Homo sapiens: one gene and its partner. The gene in region 2 interacts genetically with the main gene of each other region. Each region holds a gene or a part of one and is shown on either strand. Other genes may lie near its edges.

Region 1 (4,265 bases), 2.9 Mb from region 2:
GAAGGGACAGTTGCGATCAGTGTTTGCTTTCTTCTTCTGAGCAACAACTCTAAGAAGTTAGGCCAACCTCGATCATGTAAAAAGTAAAAAACTTATCTAAAGCCATCTTGGGCTCAATAATGTCCCTTAAATTCTCTGGGGTTGTGGGGATAGGGGCTTATACACAGCCCCAACAAGAGTTTTACCTTTAGGGAAGTTTGAAGTCCTTGACTAATATAGGATTTTGGATGACATAAGGCTGTGTTATATACCTGACACAGTAAGTACAGTAAGTATTGTCATATTCATGCCCACCCATGTGAGAAACTTATCTGTCCAAGAAGGAAATCTTAGCCCTATCATAGTCTTAAAAAATGACCATAGTCTGAATATAGGTAGCTGTTTGCTTTGGATCTGTAGTATTATCTGCTCTCAGTCTTCAGGTAGTTAAATTTTAAGTGTACTTGTTTTCCAAGACTTGGAAAAGGAGTGACACAACTTCTCTAACAGATGTCTATGCAGAAATCCTAGAAAAGCCCAGGGTGGATCAGCAGACCAAGCTGGAGGCAGAGAAACTAAAGGTGCAGGCTCCTAAAAGTTGAGGTCTCTCCATTTCCCAGGCAGATACTCTGAGTAGGCGTTAGGTCTTTTGCTCAGAGGTTGGTGCATTCTTAAGGAGCTAGGGGTTGTTACTGAAACCAGTGACATCTTGGTCACCTCACACACTTGTGACTAGGGACTGTAAAAGTTCTTTTTATTTTAGATTTTTTTCACATATGCAACATGAAGAAATCATGTGGCTTTGTGTGTGTGTCTTACTATGTTGCTCAGGCTGGCCTGGAACTCCTGGCCTCAAGCGATCCTCCCGCCTCTTCCTCCCAAGTAGCTGGGACTACAGGCTGCACCACCATGCCTGGCTCATGTGGCTTTTTCAAACAACAAAATCATTGTGGCCTGTATTGCTTATGACACGTTAACCACTATGCCAAGTACTTTAAATCAGTGCTTTTTCTTTTGAGACAGGGTCTTGCTCTGTCACCCAGGCCAAAGTGCAGTGGCACGATCTTGTTTCATTGTTAACCTCTGACTCTCAGACTCAAGAGATCCTCCTACCTCAGCCTCCAGAGTAGCTGGGACTACAGGCATGCACCACCATGGTTGGCTAACTTTTAAATTTTTTGTAGAGATAAAGTCTCACTATATTGCCCAGGCTGGTCTCAAACTCCTGGACTCAGGCAATCCTCCCACCTCAGCCTCCCCCAAAGTGCTGGGATTACAGGTGTGAGCCACTGTGACCGGCCACATCAGTGCTTTTCAAACACAAACAGGTGCAGAGGAGTCACCTGGGATCTTGCTAAGATGCAGATTCGGATTCCCTAGGTCAGGGGTGAGGCCTGGGATTCTGCATTTCTAACAAGCTCCGAAATGATGCAAGTGCTACTGGTCCTTGAACCTCAAGTTGAGGAGCGAGACTTTATGTGGATACACTAATGTAATTCTCTCTGTAATCTTAGGAGATCCTTACTATTATCTCTATTTAAAGATGAGAAACCAAGGCACAGATAGCAATTTTCCCAAGGTCACATTGGCTAGAAGCCCAGCCCTGGATCTAAGGACTACGCTATGTAACCTCCTGCACTTTACAAGTTTAAATGATAGAAGGAAAAGTCTCATTTCATTTTATTGTTAAAGCTAAAACATGCAATACTATGGTTTTCTATTTTAAATGGTATTCATAACATGAAGATTTTGCTATCCATAACTGGAATTTTTATTAAACACTTGAGAATTTATATGATCTTATTCCACATATATAGTTACTCTTCCCCATCCCCTACCCCCCAGTACTCAATTCCAAAAGCTTGCCTGAAGCATGTGGTCAGACGACTCTTCCTGATTTTTTGCTACCCTTCTCAAATAACTGGAAAATGGACCGTGCACCCAGGGTATCTGGTTAGTGTGAAGAAGTGGGGTGCAGCGTGTAAATCAGAATTCAAGTAGTTAGAAACTGGTTATGTAAATCCTTGCTATTTGAGTGTGCTACTTTGAAGTACACTCTGTGATCTGGCAGCATCAGTAGCACTTGGGAACTGGTTAGAAATGCAGAATTTTAGGCCTTGCCGCAGACCTGCTGAATCGGAATCTGCATTTTGACCGCAAACCAGATGATCATATGCATTTAAAAATTTGAGACTACTGATTTCAATCACGACTTGATTTAGATTCATTCCAATATCTGAGTCTCTAGAGCGTTTTGAACTTAAAAACAATAAGGGAAAGCACTGTCTTTACTAAGCAGACGTTTTCTTTTCCTCCCTGCTGCACTGCAGCTGCTGGGTCTGGCAGGGCCCCGGCCCTCCCGATCCCACCACTGGCGCCTCCCGGGCAGGACCCGAAGGCTGAAGGGCCTGCACTGCCCCGCACTGCGACAGTGGCAGCCGCGCAGGCCGCCACAACCCTCCCGCGGCCGGCAATGTTTTATTTACTCCACCGGGCCGATCCACCACGCGGACTGTCGCACGTGGGCACCGTCCAGCCCGGGAGGCGCCAGGCAGGGGAAGAGAAAAGAAGGCCTTGCGCTCCGGCCATGGGCACCGCGGGCTTGGACCTTAGGCCCAAGGCCCTCACCTTCAGCACCAAGTCGGTCAGGTAGACGACAGTCCAGCCACCCACCACCACCACCACCAGCGACACCGGAATCATGGCGGCAGCGGCGGCAGAGGAGGGAAGGCGAGCCCCGGCGTCCTCCTCCCTGCACCGCCAACAGCTGACCGCGCGCGCCTTACAGCCCCAGCATCCGCTCAGGAACCAAGCTACCGCCGGCTCCTTCCTTGCGGTGGCACGGTTTCCCACCGGACTCTTCCAGTGGGGACATACAGGAGGATTTGCTAGTACCGGAAATGGCACGGGGGCTTATTTTTGCGGGCGCTCGGGCGCTGCCGTCCAGGCAGTAGTTCGAACTCGGCATCTAGTCTTGTAGCGATTTCTTAGGCTTTGGCCCTCCCTGCTGTCTACTCTCCATTCTCGCCAGTTCTGGTCAGGGGTTTGCTGTTTCTTTTAACCCATGAGGATTTGGGGTCGTCTGAAGTAATAATCTCTCCCTCCCCGACCCTGTCATAGATATCCAGATTTAATTGTTTATCCTTTTTACTGAAGTGTAAATTTACATGTAATGAAATCATACATACAGAGCTCAATTGTCCATTTCTGTGAGTTTTGATAAATATATATATATATATATATACGTGTACCCTAATCAAAATGGAGAAAATTTCCCTCTCAGGAATTTCCTTCTTGCGTCCCTTCCTAGTCAGTAGCCCCTCCCCCTGTTCTGATTATTTTTAACTTTATGTAAATAGAAAGCAATAAGTACTCTTTGTGTCTGGCTTGTATCGTTCAACATGCTTTTTGAAATTTATCCATGTTGATTAAATTAGGCTCTTTTTTCAACCTTTTATAATATTTGAGATGGTGCTATGGTTAAAAATCAGAACTCTGAACACCTACACATTTTAACGTTAATGTATACCTGATTATATATTGAACTAGAGCAGCAGTTCTCAACCTTACCTGCACTTTAGGATCACCAAGGTCTTTTAAAATTCCCGATGCCCGTTCTGTATCCTCGACCAATTAAATCAGATGCTCAGTGGGACCCAAGCATTTATACTTTTTAAGCTCCTCAAGTCATTGCACTGTGCAGCCAAGGTTGAGAACCACTGAACTAGATAATCTCTAAGAGAAAAGAAAACTATTTATTGGGGTTTTTTTACGTTCTATTTATGTGCATCTTTAAAAGTTATTTGTTTCAACTTTTCTGGAAAAGCATCATTAGCTATAATAATGCTAATACCAAAATATTGAGAACATAATACTATCTCAAGAACAAGTATCCCAAATAAAAATGTATCCTCAACCCCCTTCCAAGTGAAAATATACAATAATACCAGAAACCTATATTACAAATATTGCTACTAATTTGCCTCATTCTCCCTGCTTTTCCTAAAGTTTTACTCACTTAGGGACATGTTTCTCCAGCTTCAAGACAGCTTATGACTGTTTTACATATCTTTGCCTATTTGTGTGTGTATGTGTTGTTATAAATTATTTCCGTTTTCTTTGGACATAGCTGGGTGTAAATTATAAAAGTTTGTATTCAAGCACCCTGTTACTCCACAGTTTTCCATATACAAGTATCCCAAAAGACTTAGTGCTGTTTTAAGCTTTAATAATTTCTGAAGTATTAATGCTACCAACTTGCAAAAAGTCACTTGAAGGTTTATTTA
Region 2 (4,529 bases):
TCATATTTTTAAATCAATGAATATTGAAAAATACCACTTTTCATGTTATATAAAATTTGAGATTATAAAACAGCCCTCTTAAAATCACTACTCTAACATTCGTGATGTAAAAACATAAAATACTTCATGCAGGTATTATCATTATCCCTATTATTAATATGGACACCATAAAACAAGTACATCCATATACTGAAAATCCATTCCTAAGTAGTTTATTACTGGCCAACATTCAATACCTCAGCAGAAGTTAAAGTCCTCTAAATGAATATGCCCTATACCAATTTTGATAATGTACATTAAAAAACAAGCAAATATGAGAACCTGAATCAAATTCTAACATTCAATTCCCATTTCTGAATTAATTAATATCAGTGCTAATAAAACAGTAGCTAAACTAAGTTTTAGTTCCAAAGTGATGGAGGCTACTTCAGAAACCTGACTGTGGGTGACCTTGGTCATACTAGTACAGAAAAATGCAACACAAAAATAAAGGCTCATAGGTTTAAGAAAATAAAAAGTTTAACTGGCATTTATCTTTGGATAGGGCTGAGGTGCCAGAACACATTCCATGTATGGTCACCCATCAGAGAGGTCTAATGCTTCCCTCAAAGAATTTCACATTTCACAAATAATTTTGTCTGCACAAAGTGCATTTTCCTTTTACAAAGTGGAAAAGGAAATGACCACACAAAAACAAGGGAATAAACTTGACACGGTTTCTTTAGTACACAAGGGATTAGCTATTTTGAAAGCAGATGTTATCACAGAAAAAAAAGGCTATCTAGGTATTAAAAGGGGGGGGGGGGTTAAGAGAAAACAAAATACTACACAGTTTTGGACCCACCAGTTTTTGCTGAGGCTTTCTGAAAATCTGCTTGTCAGGCACAATATAGTTGTTTTCGTAAAATGCATGAAGCAACAAGAACTCGTTACGCTCGGATCGTCCACCCATCAGCGTCCTGGACTATTAAATGGAATTTATTTTTTAAATTTGAGCTCAAAACCACAACTAACAAAAGCAACTTTGAGTCAGTAAGTTTAGTCACAGCACCTCCTTCAAAACTATTCCTAATAACGGTCTGCTTTTTTTTTAAAAAAAAAAAAGGTACTAAATTATTCCTAACGTTTTCTTTAAGCATTATAGCTAAAGGAGACAAAGAGAGCTTAAAATATTGACAACTTGGCTATTTATTTACTCCCAAATGGACCATTCCACTAAAAAGACACATCCAGATGTTAGAGAGATGATCCGTATGTTCACCCAAATTTCAACACGCTGCACCTGGCATTCCTCCCCTTCTCCCAACCAGTTCTTCCTTTTACAAAAGAAATCCAGCTTTCAGAATCCAAGTTACTCATTTTATAAGCATGCATTTAGACTCATTATCATATAACAACTACCCCAAGCAAACACTGAATCCAACAGGAAATGCTTTTTCCCCCTTTCTAAGTTAAATTTACCATAATGTTCCCAGCGATGTTAGTGATCTGCAATGCTAATGGAAGAACATTTAGCTCACACATGATCTGCAAAATGAACTTGGCATCTTTCCAGGTGTGTTCCAACAGGTATAACAGTTGAGAAGATTCACTGTACAGAAAAGTAAGAATGAAACAGAATCAAGTAATTAAAAGAAACAATGCCTATAATCAGAACTTCACAAAATATTATAAGGAATTCTGGGTGTAAGTAAATTCAGAGCAACAGCACCTTGGCTTCAGAAACAATTTAAAATAAGGTCAGTATGTAACTAGGAATTCATTCATACCACTGATCCCAATGCTTTTCTCCAAAACACACACACACACACACGCGCGCACACACACACACACACACACACACACACACAAAATCCCATAAGGAAAAACTGAAGTAATATAATAACTACAAGCCTGAAAACTACCTAAATCCTTTCATTCATTCCATCCAGTGAGTATGTATTGCATGCTTACTATATGCCAGGCATTGGCTGTGACCAAAACAAACAAAACTTCCTATCCTCCTGGAGCTTATGTCCTCACGGGGGAGACAGAGTATAAAAAAAAACAAAGAAATTAAGTATATAGTATGTTATATAATGTTAAAAGTTAAGCAACGGGAATATTAAGTATCAGAAGCAGAGACTGAAATTTTTGTTAGGAAACAGTGGAAGATTTTACTGAGAATGAAGATCTTGAAGAGGTGAGGGAGCAAGCCTTATGGAAAGAGCATTCCAGGCAGACAGGATAGCACATTCAAAAGTCCTGAGCTGCGTGCAAATCTGACAGTTCCAGGACTAGGAAAGAGGCCAATATGGCTAGATCAGAGAGAATGATGGAAAGAGCAGTACGAGATAAGGACAGAGTTAACGACATAGAGACACATTGTAAAGGACCTTGTAAGTAAAAATAAGGACTTTAGTTTTTACTCTGAATGAAACAGAGAGTCACTGGAAGGTTCTGAGCAGAGTATCACATCTGACTTGATTTTAGCAGGATAACTCTGATTCTGGATTGAGAATCGACCACAAGGGGGTAAGGGCAAAAGTAAGGGGATAGGCATATAAACCCAGTAATCCAGGGGAAAGAGGATAGCAGCTTGGATAGGATGGGTCCAATGCAGTTGAAAAGAAGTGGTCAGACTTAGATCTATTTAGAAGATAGAACTGATAGGATACCCTGATGCATCTACTGTGGGATATCAGAGAGAGGAATTAAAGATGCCTCAGACATGTGGGGCTAAGTAAGACTCTGGAAGTTTCCAGTGATAATGGAAAAAATACACCTATTAATTTAGTAAGGAAAGACTATAGGAAGAACCTAGGATAGAAGATCAGAGCTCAATTTTGAACAAGCTGGGAGTTCACATTAGATATCAAGTAAAATAGGTAAAACAGATACACTGAGTGTGGAATTTAGGGAGGTCTAACCTGAAGATACACAGGTGGGAAGCATAGCCATCCCATGGTATTTAAATTCCTAAGACTCAATGAGATCACCTAGAGAAAGAACAAAGTCAGAAAAGAGAAGTCCAAGAAAGAACTCAGGAAGAACTAGCAGGAATGAATGAGAGATGGCCAGAGGAGTAGGAGGAAGAAATAAGCAAGCAATACCTCTAACTTAATGATTGCTCAGTTTTTATATTTCTAAAATATCTACCCTAATTCCTGAATAAATGAATTAAGAGTAGAAATCTAAATCCAAACTACTGTTAGGAAACATCAAGATAGTGTTAACACAGGTGAGGGAGACGGAGATAAACTGATCAATTACAATAATTCAAGAGGTAAACTAGTTCAAATTATGAAAGTAGTAGAGACAATTTCCCCTCTACAACACCACTGGCTCATGTCCCTCCAGACTAAGGATAGTACTAGTAGTGTCCTGCTGTTGTTAATTTCAAGACAGATGAATTCTGAAGAATCTAGGATCATACCTGTACATATTTTGTATATTTTCCATTGGGATTACAACCCTTTCAGTTTTTAGAATCTGCTGAACAAGTTCAGACAGATGGTAGCTTTTACAACGAATCAATTCCTTTGCTGAAATTTCCACATCACAGATCATTCGACCACAGGTAGCATTTCTTTCACCAAATCCACTCCGGCCCTACAAGATGGGAACAAAAAGCAAACTTCATGAAAGAGCAGACACTGAGAACATTTCTTTCTAACCTATTTTGAAGCTGGCCCAAAATTATGATAAAACTCTCATTCTTCCATACATCAATCAAATATTTTTGAACATTTACTATGTATCTGACATTATTCTAGGCACTCAGGATACAGCAGTGATCAAAACAGAAAGGATTCCTGGCCTCATTTGAAATGTATAATAAAAAACAGACATCATAAACAAGAAATTATATAGTTTTAGGAGGTAACAAGTGGATGGAAAATGGGAAAACAGCAGGGTGAGGGGTACAAGGAATACGGGGGGACTGCCATCTTAAATAGGGTAATGGGGTATACCTCACTGAGAAGATGCCACATAAAGAAAATCTTGAAGGGGGTAAAAAGCTAAGCAAGTGTTCAGATGAAGTGCTAATAACAACTCTACCACCTTAAAGATATGAATAAGAAAAGAAGCAAGAGCAGTGGCCCCAACTTTGATCTGTAGTGGCAGAATCCTCTAGAGAACATTACGAAAAAGGTACAGATTCCTAACTTATCTGATGAGGCAACATGTCCATTTTATTTATAAGCTTTAAGTAAAATAAGATTTCAAGCACTGAGCAGTATCAGGTTTAGGAAGAAGGTGCTTCATACAAAAACTGCCAAAACCTCCATACATGAAGCAAGCAGGCAGAATGAAAAGTACACATTGGCTTTAAGAGTCACCCAGGCCTGGGTTCAAATCTCAGTTCTTCCCCTTACTACTTACATGATCCAGAACAAGTTACGTTACCCCTATGAGACTGTCTATAAAATAAAACTGGAGTTGTCATGAGAGGTAACTAACACAGAAAGCACTTAGTTTATTGCCTTCTTTTTTCCTTTTTTTTTTATTACAAGATATCAGCAAGCAATATTGCGTTCTTATACAAC

Evidence for each region. A genetic interaction does not mean that the proteins touch.
Region 1: changes in POLA1 (region 2) and MBTPS2 together harm fitness less than expected from each alone (positive genetic interaction), as found in Homo sapiens cells (one large-scale study listed by BioGRID).

Annotation. Positions count from the first base shown.
Region 1 is NC_000023.11:21,838,152-21,842,416, reverse strand, and holds the start of MBTPS2 (membrane-bound transcription factor site-2 protease), read right to left. Parts: upstream 2,801-4,265; 5' UTR 2,683-2,800; coding exon 2,608-2,682; intron 1-2,607. UniProt on the Homo sapiens protein: Zinc metalloprotease that mediates intramembrane proteolysis of proteins such as ATF6, ATF6B, SREBF1/SREBP1 and SREBF2/SREBP2.
Region 2 is NC_000023.11:24,738,437-24,742,965, reverse strand, and holds part of POLA1 (DNA polymerase alpha catalytic subunit), read right to left. Parts: intron 3,592-4,529; coding exon 3,416-3,591; intron 1,592-3,415; coding exon 1,462-1,591; intron 965-1,461; coding exon 845-964; intron 1-844. UniProt on the Homo sapiens protein: Catalytic subunit of the DNA polymerase alpha complex (also known as the alpha DNA polymerase-primase complex) which plays an essential role in the initiation of DNA synthesis.